3 separate regions of the Homo sapiens genome follow, and all the other regions are linked to region 2. Evidence: fine-mapped expression QTL. A gene starts in region 2. Each other region holds a variant in brackets. All regions are shown on one strand. Distances are from middle to middle.

The links. PIP is the estimated chance that this variant, and not a neighbour inherited with it, causes the effect.
Region 1: its variant is the best candidate, but not a certain one, in a credible set for the expression of ALLC in liver (GTEx, PIP 0.70).
Region 3: its variant is the best candidate, but not a certain one, in a credible set for the expression of ALLC in atrial appendage (GTEx, PIP 0.56).

Annotation. Positions count from the first base shown.
Region 1 is chr2:3,592,216-3,598,249 of GRCh38, reverse strand. COLEC11 (collectin subfamily member 11) reads right to left here and starts at 3,138. Exons shown (of 7, transcript NM_024027.5): 1 at 3,082-3,138. The variant A/G (reference allele first, on the strand shown) is at 3,479.
Region 2 is chr2:3,655,535-3,661,568 of GRCh38, reverse strand. It overlaps ALLC (allantoicase), which reads right to left and starts at 3,369. Exons shown (of 12, transcript NM_018436.4): 1 at 3,275-3,369. RefSeq lists a silencer at 1,224-1,500.
Region 3 is chr2:3,583,117-3,589,150 of GRCh38, reverse strand. No RefSeq gene overlaps it. Among named protein-coding and RNA genes, the nearest start is that of COLEC11, 9.0 kb to the left of the region's middle. The variant G/A (reference allele first, on the strand shown) is at 3,214.

The DNA.
Region 1 (6,034 bases), 63 kb after region 2:
ATAATGTTGAAATGGGCCAAGCACAGTGGCTCACGTTTGTAATCCCACCACTTTGGGAGGCCGAGGTGGGTGGATCACCTGAGGTCAGGAGTTCGAGACCAGCCTGGCCAACATGGTGAAACCCTGTCTCTACTAAAAATACAAAAATTAGCTGGGCATGGTGGCGGGTGCCTGGAATTCCAGTGACTCGGGAGGCTGAGGCAGGAGAATCGCTTGAACCCGGGAGGTGGAGGTTGCAGTGAGTCGAGATCACACCACTGCCCTCTAGCCTGAGTGATAAGAGTGAGACTCAGTCTCAAAAAAATGAAATAAATAAAATAAAATAAAAATAAAAAATACAAAAATAATGTCAAAACAAGGGGCACCACAAGGTTTGTAGCCAGACGTGCTGGTCCACTGGGCTCATAACCGTAGTCTCCCCGGCTCCTGCCTCAGCAGCAGTATTTTGGCTCCTTGTGGTATGTGGCTTCTGAAAGCAATAGTAAACTCTTCCTCCCCACCCACTCAGTACGCAAGTCGAACCTCACTTCTCAGTGTTTGCTGGATGCAAACTGGGTTTAGTTTTTTTTTTTTTTAATGTCTCAGGAATCAAAGGCTGACATGGGAATTTCCCCTCTAGCTAGAAGTGATTCTGTTCAGGTATAACCAGGTGTTCAGCAAGGCTTTTACTGCCCTCACTCCGCAGATGTCCCAGGAGTGGCTTCAACAAAGATCAGGCTCCGTCTCCCAAGAAAAGGGGTGAGTAGTGAGCAGAGAAACCCAGAGCAGCCCAGGCAGGATTTCTCGTGCCTTCACTCACACTCATCTGCTGATCCCAGAGCAGCCCAGGCGGGATTTCTCGTGCCTTCACTCCATTCATCCGCTGACCCCGGAGCAGCCCAGGTGGGATTTCTCATGCCTTCACTCCATTCATTCACTGACACCAGAGCAGCCCAGGTGGGATTTCTCGTGCCTTCACTCACACTCATCTGCTGATCCCGGAGCAGCCCAGGCTGGGATTTCTCGTGCCTTCACTCCATTCATTCACTGACCCCGGAGCAGCCCAGGCCGGGATTTCTTGTGCCTTCACTCCATTCATTCACTGACCCCGGAGCAGCACAGGCTGGGATTTCTTGTGCCTTCCCTCACTTCACTCATCCACTGATCCCCGGAACAGCCCAGGCTGGGATTTCTCATGCCTTCACTCGCTCCACTCATTCACTGACCCCGCTGCCCATTCACAGAGTTTCTGTCCACTTTCCTGCGAGGGGCCCCAGCTAGGCCTATGGGCACAAAGGAGGCACAGGCCCTGCAGCGGGGCGCTCTCAGACGCACAGCAGGAACCAGGGCAGGTAGGCACAGGGTGAGGGCACCCAGGCGCCCGAAGGAGTCTCTGCTTCCCAGAGGTCTCGCCCTCTGACTGCCTTCTTAGAAGAGGAATTCCATTTTGTAAACGGAGAAGCCACAGCTACCCCCAGGACCTCTTTAAGAACAACATCCTTATCTCCCAGCCAGGGCCCAAGACGCTCAGGGCCCTCCCATCAATGGAAGGGGCAGACTTGACAAGCAGGGGAGAGGGGGTTAAACGTGGAATCCTGAGAGGAAATACATGTTATGAATGAAATAAACAATGGGGCCAGGCCCAGTGGCTCATGCCTATAATCCTAGCATTTTGGGAGGCCAAGGTGGGCAGATCACCTGGTTAGGAGTTCGAGAGCAGCCTGGCCAACATGGTGAAACCCCCCTCTCCACTAAAAAGTACAAAAATTAGCCAGGTGCCATGATGCACACCTGTAATCCCAGCTACTCAGGAAGCTGAGGCAGGATAATCGCTTGAACCTGGGAGGCGGAGGTTGCAGTGAGCCAAGACGGTGCCATTGCACTCCAGCCTGGGTGACAGAGCCAGAGTCCATCTCAAAAAAAAAAAAAAAAATGAAATAGACAATGAGAAAAAATCATGGCTTCAGTTGCCAAACATGCTATTCTACTTTTTCATTAAGTATCTACAGCAAGGCCCAGCATCTTACAGGCACCACAAATACCTCCTAAGAACCACATCCCTGAAGCATGAGGAGGTTCCTCTCACTGGGGACTGCCCCAGCCCCACCGCGGTGTTTCCCTCCCTACAGTGACAGAGCACCTTCTGGGGCAGCCTGGATTCCACCCACAACAGCACACGCTCCTCTTAGCTTCTTACCAAGAGCACAGAGTAAGAAGGCACCTATCCTCTCTTATCTTCCCCCAGCGGTCAGCACATTACCGGTGTGCTCTCTTCTACGGTACATGGATTTTTCAAAATTGTAAACAAAATCGAATAGCTGTGAAAGATTGGGGCAGTGCTCTGCCTACCACAGGCAAAGTGCTTCCCATCAAACCAAAATTCCAGCTATGCACATGAGATGGCTTTAAACGTTCATCTTTAAATTGAGAACGACCACATCACCTCAGCTCTAAAAAGACCGCCAGTTCCTAGCGCAAGGCATCCAGGTAGGAGGCAGCGGCCCTAGGAAACTTTCCTCCTTTCCAATTTTGGAGACAAGATGACCCCACTTGGTTTTAGATGACCCCATCTGAACTCAAAGTCTTTCCCTGGAAAGTTGCCAAAGCAAGGCCCACCTTTCCCCCACCTCTCTGATCCCCGTTCCTGAGCCCAACACAGAGCCACTGGTCCCTGGGGGCAGTCGTGGCTGCTGTCCGCCTGGCCCGTCAGACGCTGCTCAGGCTCAGGAACAATCGTCAGGTTGTGAGACCAGGTACTGCACTGCGGTTTGGAATTAGCGAAGACTGTTTAGCCCCCTGGGCCTTGGGCTGTTTGAAATCTGCCACCCAAGAGGGTGACTCCATCATCCAGCACCTCTCATGGGTCGGATCCCATCTCATCAATAGGCTCCACGAATTTCCGCCATGAACTAATCAAACTTTGGAACTCTGGTGCCAGATTTATTGAGACTCAATCTTTTGCCTGGATCTAGGGACAGATTCCCATCCTCCTCGCTCAGCAGGAGCCCACCTCGCGCCCAGTTTGGAAGCCTGCCTGCCTCCCCTCTGCACTGTCATAGCCCCGTGAAACCCTCAGCTGCAGCCCCGGGCAGAGTCTCCTACCTGAGCACGCGCTAGGCGAACGGGGCGTCCTGCCCGTCGCTGGCCCGCGAGGACACTGCCCCCAGGCGCCTCATGGCTGCTATTTAGAGAGGCGGCCGCAGTCCCAGGCGCAGGGAGAAGCCTCGGCCCGGGCCATCAGACAGCCCAGCAAATCAGGCCGCCCGGCCGCAGCGTTATCTCGGGGAGCTTCCTGTCTGCGCTGCGTCCACCGTCCTGCCTGGGGAGTGTGGGAACGCCTGGAACTCCCTGAGGCCGGCTTTGGGGTGGGGGGCAGGACCCTCCTGGAGATGCCCCTGCTAACTCTCCAACCCGAACATCCCAATTTTGTTTCTTTTTTGGCTTTCTCTTCTTTCTTTTCGTTTTTTGAAAAAATAAGCATGACTACTGTGGAAATTCA[A/G]AAGAGCATAAAGAGGAGGGACGCTCATCACCTGGCACCAATCAGACAGAAACGAGGGCAGCTGACTGATCTCCTTTCCTTTGTTCATATGGGATTTCGCTTCAAAAGTCAGCAAGAGCTTGACCACGGCCTGTGGAGACCTGGCCACACGTGAGTCCGGAAACTCACTCTACGCATTTAAGTTTCATTTAAAGGCAAGTTTCATTTAATGCCAGAAACAAATGTTAGTCAGGGGCTGGACAGATCCAGCTTCTATGCAGCCCGAATCTTGCATGTTTTGGGGGATAGCGGAACCTTCTTTAAGAAAAAGATACATATAAAATTACAATCATAAGAAGCTAGGTTCAAAGGTGAATATTTATTTAGACTGAGAAATCATAAAATAAAACTGTAAAAACACAAATTCCACACACATAATAAAATTAAGGAAAAATAATGGATTCTTTATTTAAAACGTATTATTGAAGTTATACATAAATTTGACAACTTAGACAAAATGAACCACTTCTTGAAAACACGAACTACAACATGCCCAGCATGAAACAGATAATTCAACAGCCCTATGCCAAGGAAGGGAATTGAACTTGCAATTTAAACGCTCCCCAGAAAGACATTTCAGGGCCAGATGGTTTCACAGGAGGGTCTACAAAACGTTTAAAGAAAAATTAACACCAATTCTACACATCCTCTTCCAGAAAATAGAAGAGGAGGGAATATTTACCAATTCATTTTATAAAGTTGATTATTACCCTGATACCAAAACCAGACAAAGACAGAACAAAAACACTATAGACCAATAACCCTCATGAATATAGATGAGAAAATCCTTAATAAAATATTAACAGACAGAATTCAGCAATATAGAAAAAGATTTATCAACTATGACCAAATGGGGTTTCATCCAGGAATGTGAGGCTATGTCAATATTCAAAGCTCCTTTGATAAAAACCCATTAACAAGCTAACAAAGAAAATCAAATGAATATCTCAATTTATATAGAAACAGCATTTGGCATAAACCAACACCTTTCATGATAAAAACTCTCAGAAAAATAGGTGCAGGGGACCTTCCTCAACTTGATAAAGAGCATCTGTCAAAGGCAAAGCCACAGCTAACATCATACTTCATGGGCAAAAATGGAATGTTTCCTTCCTGAGATCAAGACAAGGCAAGGGTGTCCACTCTTACCTCTTACTCAATGCAGTGCTAAAGTTCTAGGCACACCAGCAGGGCCCGAAAAGGAAATAAACAGCATGTAGATTCGAAAAATAAAATAACTCTGTCCCTTGTTGCAGATGACATGGTTGTCTACTTAGAAAATCCCAGAGTCTACAAAAGAGCTCCTGGAAACTATTAAATCAGTGTGACAGGTGACAGGATACAAGGCAAACATTTAAAAAACCAAGTAGGCCAGGCGTGGTGGCTCACACCTGTAATCCCAGCACTTCGGGAGGCCAAGGTGGGAGGATCACCTGAGGTCAGGAGTTAGAGACCAGCCTGGCCAACAAGGCAAAACCCCATCTCTACTAAAAATACAAAAATCAGCCAGGCATGGTGGTACATGCCTGCAATCCCAGCTACTCGGGAGGCTGACGCAGGAGAATCACTTGACTCCGGGAGGCAGAGGGTGCAGTGAGTTGAGGTTGTGCCATTGCACTCCAGCCTGGGTGACAGAGCGAGACTCTGTCTCAAAAAAATAATAAACAATGAAAAACCAAGCAGATTTCTATAAAATAACAATGAACTCATAGACACCAAAATTCAAAATAATATCATTTACAATTGCTTTAAAAAAGGAATACTTAGGTGTAAATCTAACAAAACATATATAGAACTTACATGCTGAAAACTACAAAATGCTGCTGAAAACCTCAAAAAAGATCTGAATAAACAGAGAAACACGTCGTCTTCATAGATTAGGAGACTCACCCCAAGCACAGTGGCTCATGCCTGTAATCCCAGCATTTTGCAGGGCTGAAGTGGGAGGATCACTTGAGTCCAAGAGTTCAAGACCAGCTTGGGCAACATGGTGAAACCCTGTCTCTAACAAAAACAATACAAAAATTAGCCGGGCATAGTAGAATGGTCCCAGCTACTCAGGAGGCTGAGGTGGAAGGATCACTTGAGCCCGGGAGGTGGATGTTGCAGTTAGCTGAGATCGCACCACTGCACCCCAGCCTGGGTGACAGAGTGGGACCCTGTTTCAAAAATAATAAAATGAAAATTAAAAAGTATAGATTGGGAGACTCAACAGAGTAAAAATGTTGATTCTCCCCCAAGTTAATATACAGTACAAGCTTAACACAATTTCTATCAAAATCATAACAATAATTTTTGTAGATATAGACACGGCTATTCTAAAGTGTATATGAAAAGAGAAAGGAACTAGAATAGCTAAAACAATTTTGAAAAAGAATAAAATAGGAGGAATCAGCTCTCCGTCTCCGTCTCCGTCTCCGTCTCCGTCCCCGTCCCCGTCCCCGTCCCCGTCCCCGTCCCCGTCCCCGTCTCCGTCTCCCTCCATGGTCTCCTTCCACGGTCTCCCTCTGATGCCGA
Region 2 (6,034 bases):
TAACCTGAATTCCAGGGAACAGCCCCAGCACTGGTCTGTTTCTCTGGGAATACTCATTCTTTTCCCTCCAGCAGATGGTCCTGGGCCCCAAGCATTTCTCCTAGAACATCAAGCTCCTCTTGTTTCACAGCAGATCCAGCCCAGGCAGCAGCCCCCACAGGCCAAGCTTAATTAAAGCCTTCCCTGAACCCCTGCTTGAGGCTTTTCTGCCAATGACCCAGCAGCTAAATGCTTGCGTGCATTGAGGTCAGATGCCTGGCATGGTTTTCAAAACATGTGTGTACCATGAGCCAGGAGCAGAAGGAAGGGAACTGATGTCTCTAAGCATGAACTCTATAGCTCCATATCTGTTCCCGTATCTCCCGTACTCCAAGCCTTGGAGTCACACATTATTATACCCATTGCTAAGGAACTCAGAGACGGGACGGAGGCTCTCACCCAATGTCATTCAGCTAATGAACAGGGAGGGGGACGGGTTGTGAATGCAGATGAGTCCGACCCCAGGCCTATGCTGTTTGAAACCACAGCCCCTCTCACTTTATTATGAAAAAAACAGTGTTAGATATAAGTCCTAAATTTCTCTTCAAAGAATCAGTATGTCAGTATGTTCAATTATTTGCCTTCTACTTTTAACTTAACTTCCTCATAAAGCAACCTTTTTTGATCACCTGCTCCACCCTGACTCATTCCGATCACCTGCTCCACCCTGACTCATTCCGATCACCTGCTCCACCCTGACTCATTCCGATTTCCTGCCCCACCCTGACTCATTCCGTTTTCCTGCTCTGCCATAACCATTTTTCCCACCAAACCACTCACCCCATCACTCTCTTTAAATCAGCCAATCAGAATTAGTTTAGCCTGTGCGGTCTAACCCTAGCCAATAGGGGAATGATACAGCAGCAGGGGCCACGTGCGTCAGGAATAAGAACCCCGTCCCCTCCCTTGTCCAGGTGTGCGCCATTGCTCCATCTGTGAGGGCACACCCTTCTATAGCAGTAAATGGTCTTGCCGAGAAGAAAAAAAAAATTGATATTCAAGGGCTGTTTCTTTGGCGGCACCGAAACTTTATTTATAATAACAGTAAAGGCAGCATCATCTCCCCAAATATCGCAAAATTTATTCTCTGTGTTCTCCCAGTGTCTTAGCCTATTTGTGTCGCTGTGAAGGAATGCCTGAGGCTGGACAATTCATTAAAAAAAGGGGTTTACTTGGCTCATGGTTCTGCAGGCGGTACAGAAAGCACGGCGCTAGCATATGCTTCCAGCGAGGGCCTCAGGCTGCTTCCACTCCTGGTAGGAAGTGAAGGGAGCCGGCGTGCAGCCACCACAGGGCAGAAGAGGAAGCGTGGGAGGGACGCCAGGCTCCTCCTAACAAGCAGCTCTCACCAGACTAACAGAGGAAGAACCGTCTCACCACCTCCAGAACGGCACCAAGCCATTCATGAGGGATCCGCCCCCATAACCCAGACTCCTCCCGCTGGGCCCCACCTCCAACACGGGGGATCTGATTGCACCATGAGGTTTGGGGGGACAAACATCCAAACCATAGCACCCCACAACCTCAAAGGCTGTTATGTGAAAAGTCTCCCCACCCCTAAGATAAAAAAATGTGAGAAAGGAGAGACCGTTTAAAGCTGGGCCTCCAGGCCACAGCACAGGCCCAACCAGTGTCTGCTGTGAAAGGGCCGTGACATTTGTCTTTCCTAAGTTTCTCTCCTCAGCCACAAATCCCAGAAGTATCCACAGTGGCCTGTGCTGTGCAGGGCCCCGTGGAGGTTCCCGAGAGATTCCAGGCAGCCAAGAGCTGGCGGTATAAGGGGCCGTTCTCAGCCCTGGTGGAGGTCACAGCTCCACGACTCTTGCGCCATGAGCTTGCTGAGCTCTCTGCTCACTGGTCCCTGCCGTTTCTGTTGATAAAATAGCCAAGGTCTAGGCAAGAAAGGAAGGAGCCACGCGACCTCGGCTGAGGCCACCAGCTCAGCAGCTCACAGTGCTCAGACAGCCTGTGGCAGCTGCTTCTAAGCTCATTGCTGCAACCCCTCCCACTGCCTGCTCAAGGGAGCTCTTAAATACATTTTCTGCTGTGGCTGAGACCAGACCCAGGGTCAGCTCTGATGTTTGAGGAACATGCTAAAGTTTTACCTGCAAATTTCAACTTAATCACCGCAAATGAGGAGCATTGTCATGGGTTACGGCAAGGCGATGAGGCAATGACTCTCTAAAATAGAGTCATGAAATTTCAGGCAGTCAAGTGGTGCTCACACTATTTTTTCTTTTGAGATTAGCCTTAAAATAAGAAAAGGCATGACCAGGCAAGTCTAGGAAGCACAAGAAAGAGAGACCTCCCTCTGACAAGCAGGGAAGGCTGTGCTGATGGAAGAGTTACTCCCTCGTAAAGAAGAAAACCTTCAGGGGCTTTGTCATCGCTGTCAATAAGTTCCGAAGAAGCCTTTGGCCAAAAGTATGAGATTTATGGTGAAATAATAAAAGTGGTTTGTTCAAATTTGGGACAAAATTAGAGTGACCTTGAGCAGGGACTCTGAGCAGCCCAAGGTCAACTGCACGAGACTCCTGACTACCGGCAACTCTTGGTATATATTTACATTTAGTTCTACTTTGTGACTCTTGTTTTGAATATAGGTTTACTTCACCATGGCCTTAGTTGTTTAGGTTTTTTTTTTTTTTTTTTTGAGACAGGGTCTCACTCTGTCATCCAGGCTGGAGTACAGTGGCATGATCTTGGCTCATTGCAACCTCCACCCCAATCCCATCCCGGGCTCAAGCAATTCTCCCATGTCAGCCTCCCAAGTAGCTGGGACCACAGGCACGCACCACCATGCCTGGCTATTTTTTTGATTTTTGGTAGAAATGGGGTCTTGCCATGTTGTTCAGGCTGGTCTCAAACTCCTCAACTCAAGCAATCCACCCACCTCGGCCTCCCAAAGTACAGGGATTACAGGCATGAGCCACCATGCCCAGCCTCTTTAGATTTTTTTTTAAGAAGGCCAAAGTCACATGATTTGAAACCAAACAGAGCAGTGACCAGAGCCCAGAAGCCTGACCCACCTGTGGGGCCCCTCCAGGTGTTTGGGCCACGCCCGGTACCAACACAGTTCAACGGCACAAAGTGGTGTCTGTCACCATCTACCCTCTGTCACCTTCCAAGTGTCGAGGGTTCGTTGCATGACTGAAATTCATCTCTGTCACCCTATTCTTTTGGCAAAGCCCACCTTAAAGATAGCAAGGTATTTATAAACCACACTCCAGCTCACCCAGCAGTCAGAAATCAAGTATTCATAAATGGATCTCTTGCTCCCCAGAAGCCAGCCAAGGTCCCACGGTGCTTGAGTGCCAGCTCAGAGAGAATGTATAGGGGCCTGAGGTAGAGACAGAACTTTGCAGAGATTGGCTGTGCCTGTATGATGTCACAAGGGTTGCAGAGAGGTGGAAGTAACAGGGGGAGCAGCCCCTCCCCGGAGAAGCCAAGCAGGCCTCTGCAAGACCCTCGCACAAGGCCCGAAGCCAGACATGGTCCCTGCTGGTCCCAGGGCCCTTCCCTGTCCCTAACAAAGCTGCCTCCGGCCACTGGCCTGGGCCTGAAACCCCCACCTTCCTGGTCCGGCCAGTAACCTGACTTAAAGTTTTATCTCTAGACGTCACCTATTCACTAATCATCATTAACTCAGAAAACACTGAGCACACCCAGCAGTGGGTCCTGACCTACTAGAGAAGACAGGGGCCCTTGGGAGGGTTTGGCTAGAGCCCCTCAGCCCCAGAAAAAGTAAATACACACAAAATTTTCATGGAATTTAAAGAAGCCCACAGATGCTTAAGAAAGGGCACCTTGCCAAGTGGATGCTAGGCCTGTGGCATACAAAACAACACGTGCCGCCTGCCTTCAAAGGCCCCACTGTCTGCAGAAGAACTTTCCATGCAGAAAGAAACAGCTGAGCCCGGCTTCGACATGCAGTAACAGACGTTGCCTTGCTTCACCACAGCCACCCTGCGGGGCAAGCTATCCACTCTGCAGATGAATCAGCTGGGGCCTTGAAGGCAGGAAAGCCACCCGAGGTCACCTGCGCAGGGAGGGACTGAGCTGGAACCAGAACCCAGCACAGCAGATGGCGCGCACAGGGGCCCTTGGGGCTCCAGAAAGACAACCTGCGTCCCAGGGAGATCCATCACCCACACGCTCCTTTTTCCTTCCTGGGTTTTCTTTCCCCAGGGCCTGACCGGCCTTCTCCTCCTGAACTCCAGCTTTCCCAGAGGAAAGCAAAGCCATTTGAAAGGCCGGCTCAAGGCCACCTCCAACTGAGAACCCCACCCCCAACCCCAGCCCGTCTCTCAGCCCCGCCACCCAGCCGTAGTTAGGATGCGTCCAGCGCCTGTTGTCTGATCTCAGCTCGCCCGGCCTTTGAGTCCATGTTTACACATCTGTCTGCCCATCCAGATGAAATTCTTTAAGAACGAAACCACATCCTATGCTGCCTTCCATAGCTGACTGTATTTTAATGAATTAATGCACGTGGCTTCGTCCCTGGCAGTTCTTGTCAGCCGTGACTTCCCCGCCACAGCAGTGCAGTGCCCCCGCTCGCCGCCTCGGATCAGTCACAAAGCTCACGGTGCGGAGAACAGAAGGGCCTATTTTTATCCTCGTGGTTTCGCTAAGCCTAGGCTGTGGCACCGATAAAGCCATGGAAGAAGGCACCCTGACCCCTGCCCTCCACACCCTGACCTCTGCCCTCCACACCCTGACCCCTGCCCTCCACACCCTGACCTCTGCCCTCCACACCGAGCTGGCTCCTACAATCTAATGTGCTTCCAAATCACCTACGAGCTGGTTAAAGTGCAGATTCTGACGCTGCAGATTTGAGATACGGCCTGAGGCTTGAGATTTCTCCAAGCTCCAGGGCGATGCTGGGGCTGCTGGGCCATGGCCAGAGGTTGAGCACAGGGCTCTGCCAGCTAGCTGCCCCATCCGACGTGGCAGCCACTAGCTATGCTAAATTCAATACTTCTCTAACGCTAAAATCAACTTAATTTAGTGAAGTTAAAAGTTTGGATGCTCTGTCTTATGAGGTAAGTTTCTAGTGCCCAACAGCCACATGCGGCAGAGGCGACAGGCTGGGCTGCACAGCTACAGAACTTTCCATCGTGGCACAGCAGACGTCCTGTGGACCCATCTGTGGGGCGGGAGGAGAACAAGAGCTGGCAGAGAGGTGGTCCCAGAGCAGTGGCCTGAGCCAGACGTGAGGCTGTTCTCGGAGCTCCGTAGGGGCTTCAACCCTCCTGCCTTGGTCCTGCCAAGACATGAGGATTCTCATGGAAAGGGCTGGAGCACCCTCAGAATAATGCCGCCATCCCCGGCCTCCCTGGGCTCCCAGGAGGCAAGGAGATCAGCCTGCGATGATGGAGGTGCTGGCTGCCTGGACGGGCTCCTCCCGACCCCTGCGCAGCCCCTGGCTGAAGTGGGTGTCCCGCTCACTAGGTGGGGACCTGATGTTGAGGAAATGTCCACTCTTCAGGCACAACAACCTCCCACCTCTTCCTCCCCCCGCCCCATTCCACTGGGAGCTCGCTGGCTCTGCTGACAGCAGGCTACCCACATCCCCCACCGGAGCGGGCAACAGGCTTTGCAGCGCTCCAGCAGAAGCACAGGGCAGCGCTTAGGGGCTCCAGCAGAAGCACAGGGGCAGAGCTCAGGGGCAATGCTCGAGGCTTGTCTTATGGCTCCAGCTGCAAGAGGCCAGTGGTTTCCTTAATGCTGTCCCTTTAATTAGGCAAATACTTAAAACTTGTCATTCTAAGGCTGGGCACAGTGGTCCATGCTTATAATCCCAGCACTTCGGGAGGCTGAGACGGGAGGATCCCTTGAGCCCAGGGGTTTGAGACCAACCTGGGCAACACAGTGAGACCCCATCTCTGAAAAACAAAAGTTTTTTAATTAGACAAGCATGATGACACACACCTGTATTCCCAGCTACTTGGGAGGCTGAGGTGGGAGGATCGCTTGAGCCCAGCAGTTCAAGGCT
Region 3 (6,034 bases), 72 kb after region 2:
TGGTGGCGCATGCCTGTAGTCCCAGCTACTCCAGAGGCTGAGGCAGGAGAATCGCTTGAGCCCAGGAGGCGGAGGTTGCAGTGAGCCAAGATCACACCACTGCACTCCAGCCTGGACAACAGAGTGAGACTCCGTCACAAAAAAAAAAAAAATGAAAGAAAAAAGAAATGGTGCAGCCACGCTGGAAAAGTCCGAGAGTGCCTCAAAAAACTAAACGTACAACCACACTACCACCCAGCAGCTGCACTCTAGGAATTATTCCAGAGAAGTGGAAAGCTGTGTTCACACGCACCGGGGCCGTCCAGTCTTTTGGCTTCCCTGGGCCACATTGGAAGAAGAATTGCCTTGGGCCACACATAAAATACACTAACAATAGTTGGTGAGCAAAAAAAAAAAAAAATCTCACGATGTTTTAAGAAAGCTTACGAATTTGTGTAGGGCCACGTTCAAGCCATCCTGGGCCACATGCAGCCCCAGGGCTGTGGGTTGGACAAGCTTGCTGTACACCAAGGTTTACAGCAGCTTTACCTATAATATCCCAAAACAGGATAATCAGCCTGGACATCCTTCAACAGGTGAATGGTTAAACAGACTGTGGCACATGCCCGCCATGGAACGCGGCCCTGTCACAAAGAGGAACCCACCATAGACCCACGCAGCACCTTGTAGGAACTAGGGACTCTACTCACTGAAAAATACCAGCCCCAAAATGCTCCTTACTGTATGATTGTCTTTATACAACACTCCTGAGATGGCCAAACTACAGAAACTGAGAAGAGACTCACGGTTGCCAGGGATCCAGGAGGAAGCGGGGCAGAGGGAAGGGGGTGCTGTAGGAGGGTGCCGTGCGGGGTCCCCGTGGTGACTGCAGCGAGGCACGTCCCTGTATCTGGCTGGGAGACTGTCCTGCAGTTTCACAAGGTGCTGCCCTTGGGGATATTAAGTACACAGCCTCTCTTACAACTGCATGTGAACCTATAATTATCTCTAGATATTAATAAAAGTTTAGTTTTTAAAAAGCTGCCTGACAGCCCTTATGTTTTTGTTTATGTTTTTGGGGGGGTTTTTTGGGGTTTTTTTTTTTTTTTTTGAGATGGAGTCTCGTTCCGTTGCCCAGGCTGGAGTGCAGTGGGGTGATCTCAGCTCACTGCAAGCTCCACCTCCTCAGTTCAAGCGATTCTTCTGCCTCAGCCTCCTGAGTAGCTGGGACTACAGGCGCCCGCCACCACACCCGGCTAATTTTATGTATTTTAGTAGAGACGGGGTTTCACCGTGTTAGCCAGGATGGTCTCGCTCTTCTGACTTCATGATCCACCCACCTCGGCCTCCCAAAGTGCTGGGAGTACAGATGTGAACCATCGCACCCAGCCCAGCCCTTACGTTTTTATATTATTTGGCTGTATATTCTTTCATTGCCTGCTCCCGTGAACACAAATTTCTACAAAGAGAACAGAAGATGACTCAGTATTTGCTCTTTCTTGCATGGTTATTTAAATATCTTCTTATTGGTAGCTTCAAAACAGTTTACTTCAGCTCCACAAGCCTTTATCAGTGACGCCATGAACAGTTTTTGGATAGCTGTCAAGTCTGGGGAAACCTCTATCAGTTTTCTTTCATATACTAGGTGTTTGATTTCAGGCATCTCAACGATTGGGTTTTGGTTTGTTTTGTTCAGAGTAATCCTAGTCTTTGAAATGACCACACCACTGACCAATTTGTAGCTCATGACCTCCTCCTGCACCATGAACCACCCAGCATATCCAGCTGAAATCCAAAATAATATAACCCCAACTCAACGTCAGTTTGTTCTCCCCACCCCTCGGGCTCAGGGACATTTGACAATGTGCAGGAGACATTTTTAGTTGTCACAACTGGGGACATGGTACTGGCTTCTAGTGGGAGAGGACAGGGAGGCTGCTAAACATTCTACAATGCATGGGATGGCCCCACAGCACAGAGCTCTCCAGCCCTAAAAGCTAACAGTGCCAAGGTGGGGAAACCCTCAGCAGGATGCAAAGATGCCTGGGCCGCATCGGCACCACTCAGCAGGAGGCTGTGACAGAGGAACCAGACAGCGGTCTTCACTCATTGTGCTTTTTTTTTTTTTTTTTTTGAGACAGAGTCTGGCTCTGTCGCCCAGGCTGGAGTGCAGTGGCGCGATCTCGGCTCACTGCAAGCTCCACCTCCTGGGTTCACGTCATTCTCCTGCCTCAGCCTCCCAAGCAGCTGGGACTACAGGCGCCCGCCACCACGCCCAGCTAATTTTTTGTATTTTTAGTAGAGACGGGGTTTCACCGTGTTAGCCAGGATGGTCTCGATCTCCTGACCTCGTGATCCGCCCGCCTCGGCCTCCCAAAGTGCTGGGATTACAGGCGTGAGCCACCGCACCCGGCCCATTGTGCTTAATATTTTATTTGTGCTAATTTTATACAAATATATGACCACAGAACTCAATGCTAAGGCCTCTCCAGCCGGATCTTTATTGGCCTCATGGTGAATCTGCCTCTATTGTCTGAAGTGGGGTGTGGAGCACAGTGTGCCCAGGCCAGGCCCATCACATCATGTCCTTTGGGCAGCCATCCCCTCTGCCCGTGGAGGACGCAAACTGGGGTGAAGAGAACGGAACGTGTGTAGAACCCGGTGCCAGCTAGGATCATTCACGACCGCTCGCTCATGGAGGCCTCACAGCTACCCTCATAGCAAGGAGGAGTTGTCGCCCCTGTTTCAGAGTTCAAGAATGAGAGACCTTGCCCAAGATCACAGTTCACAAAGAACGTGCCAGTCGGAGTCTGGGCCCGTCACACTAAAGCTGCACTTGTCACCAAGCAAGCCAGCAAGGCCCACAGGACCCCCCAAGACCCAAGCGCCCAGCGTCTGTTTCACAGCTGATGTGGGTGTTTTCCGTTTGTTTTTGTGTTCCTGAAACGTTAAGGGCTTTTTAAAAATTAAAAAAAAAAAAAAATGCCAATAAGCCGATAATTACTCTCAGTTATATAAATAAGTGATCATTCAACTTCCTATTTCGAGTACACTGTATTGGAAGCACAGTTAGACTATAAACCGTGTTCACACCTGCACTGGGAACAGAAGGGCCAGGAGGCCTTCCCCCTCCTCCTTTTTCCTCTCCTCCCCGCAGCTTTTTCTTGAAAGTGTTGAAGTCGTGGCTGCTGGGAACAGCCTTTTGCCTCGTGAACCCTGACCCTCTCATGGAAC[G/A]AGTCCACGCCAGGGGGCCAGGAAAAGACTCTGGCGCAAATCCCAAATCGTATTTACATTTCTCAGAGATAACTCAGAAATCTGGACAGCAGGAGCCGGATGAAAACCCCGCTTGTCTCCGGATGGGAATTCTCACTGGGATCACACAGTGCATGCTGCCAAATCTCTGGGACATTGTCCATGAGGACATTAACGGCAGCCACCTCTCCCCGTCCTTAAGTTCCCGGACAGAGTGGAGCCCTCTGGCCTCCTGCCTCAGCAGTGTGGGGCTGGGCCTCCATCTTCTCCCCGGCGCTTCCCTCTGACCGTGCCAGTCCGGCAGCGCACAGCTGTCCAGGAGCACAGGCATGAGATCCGGAGCACAGGCATGAGATCCGGAGCACAGGCATGAGATCCGGAGCACAGGCATGAGATCCGGAGCACAGGCATGAGATCTGGAGCACAGGCATGAGATCTGGAGCACAGCCTCCCTGCCTGGGCGCATGAGGGCGGGGCCCCACCACTGTCTCATCAGAGACTATTAGGGAGTCAACTATCAGAGGTCCTCAAACTTGAGCTTGCATCAGAATCGACTGGAAAACTTCTTAAAACACATGGCTGGGCCCCACCCTAAAGCTGCCGATGAGATATGCTGCCGGTGGGACCTCAGTGTTCTCGTTTTTAAAACTTTCCAAGCATTGGAAACCACTGCCTACCTCCCAGGGTCCTTGGAAGGATTTGAGCTAATCCTTCAAGAGTCTACCCTGGTGCCTGACCCACATGGACCGACACTCAGTGAAGACATAGGAGCTGTTCTGGTGTCCCCAAACACCATCCTACTCACCCCCAACTGTCTGCCACACTAGACACTCCTGCTCCAGCACAGGCCTTAAAACTGAAAATCAAGTTAACCCCAGGCCAGGCATGCTGGCTCATGCCTGTAATTCCAGCACCTTGGGAGGCCAAGAAGGGAGGCTCACTTGAACCCAGGAGTTCAAAATCAGCCTGGGTAACCTAGCAAGACCCCCATCTTTACAAAAAAAAATTTTTTTTTTTTAATTAGCTGGGTGTGCACCTGTAGTACCAGCTACTCAGGAGGCTGACGCGGGAGGATCGCTTGAGCTGGGGAGTTTGAGGCTGCACTGAGCCATGATCACACCTCTGCATTCCAGCCTGGGTGACAGTGCAAGACTCTTGTCTTAAAAAGATAAAATCTGTAACTGGTTTGGTTTTCAAGGACAGGAAAACACATTCATTCATCTTTACTAAGTGCCAAATACTCTGAGAACTTGTCTGTATTTACTGATACTTTAAACTTGTAGTACTTAAAGTCAGTGGCTTTTAGAATTAGAGGGACCCTCAGACTCAGCTAGCCCACGCTCTTTCATTTCCCAGTGGGAAACCTGAGGTCCACGAAGGAATGATGCAGCTCATCTTCAGGCCACCAAACACAGGGAGGGACTCCCCACCCACCACATCAAACTCCCCAAGAGCTTTAGGCGAAGATTTAGCCATGTCAGGTTAAGATGTGGTCAGCGCTGCTTTCAGGGTCCCTGAGTGAAACGGTCAGGTACTATCACAAGCTTGCAGCATGCCAGAGATCACAGTCGGGAATAAAACTGGCAGAATGCTAAGGGAGTTCTGTCAGATAATGATTTAAAAGCTAAGTAAGGAGTGATTTGCTCTACTTTCAAGAGGAAGCTTAGGCCATTTTAGATCCAGATAATTAACAGCACGCTGACTTTAATGGTGGCCTCATTAAGTGTGTTATTACAGAGCACGGCCCTGATGTTATCTGTATAGCATTTTGAGTAAAATGTGATTGCTAGAGGCATTCAGACTAAACTTCATTACAGTCACTCACCCACTGTTGCTGCTATTGATTATAGTGAGAAAATTCGATGGAGTTAAAGCATTTCCAACAGCTCATCTAGCAATAACAGGAATCTTAGGAACCAGGCCCATCTCCAGTCATTGAAATGTCTCTTTCACTAGGCTGTGTTTGCATTGTCCTGTTATAAGTTTTAATAAATATCAAGTCTAATACCTGCTTTACAGGTCTAGTATCATCTCAGTGCCTGAAAACATTCAAGATGCTGTACTAAAGAACTGTGTGACTTTGTATACCTTCACTAGTTCCTTTATTGTGTTGTATGAATCACGGAGAAAAGGCTGCACTAATGTACCTAGAAGGGAAAAGGATTTTTTAAAACCACTATTACTTCCCATAGCAAATGCATACATTCATGCCTGAAGGTTTACTATCTAATCTTTGTTCAACAAAATCATGAAAAAGTTTATATTTACCTTTCAAAAATATTTGATATATTTAAGCTTTCTTGACAAAAAAAGATAACTTAAGTTTTCTTGACAAAGTTTACCGATGAAAATTGTGCGTGCTTAGCACGCTAGGCCCCAAACTCTTCCATTGTGCACTCCAAGTGAAACTTTTGAGTACCTCCAATGCGTAGTTAATACAGAACGCACCACGGTACTAATAGGGTATGTACGTTATAAAAACACAGAAGGTTTAAATGAGTAACCACAGTAATGATATCTAAGTCTTTTTGTTCACCAAGGTATTAATTTTAGAGAAAGCAATGATTGTTATACTTTGATATAACAATTTAAAATCTAGTTTTAAGTTTGGCACTTGATTTTAATAATTATCACAGCTAAAAGATTCCTAAATGATATGTTTAGAATTTGCTTCAAAAATCTCCAGCGAAAAAAGGGTGAGAATAGATGAAACAAGATTAGCAACGTGTCAGTACTAGCTCAAGCTGGGTGATGGGACAGAGGCCCACTACTGATTCTGTTATACTTTTGAGTATGACAGAAA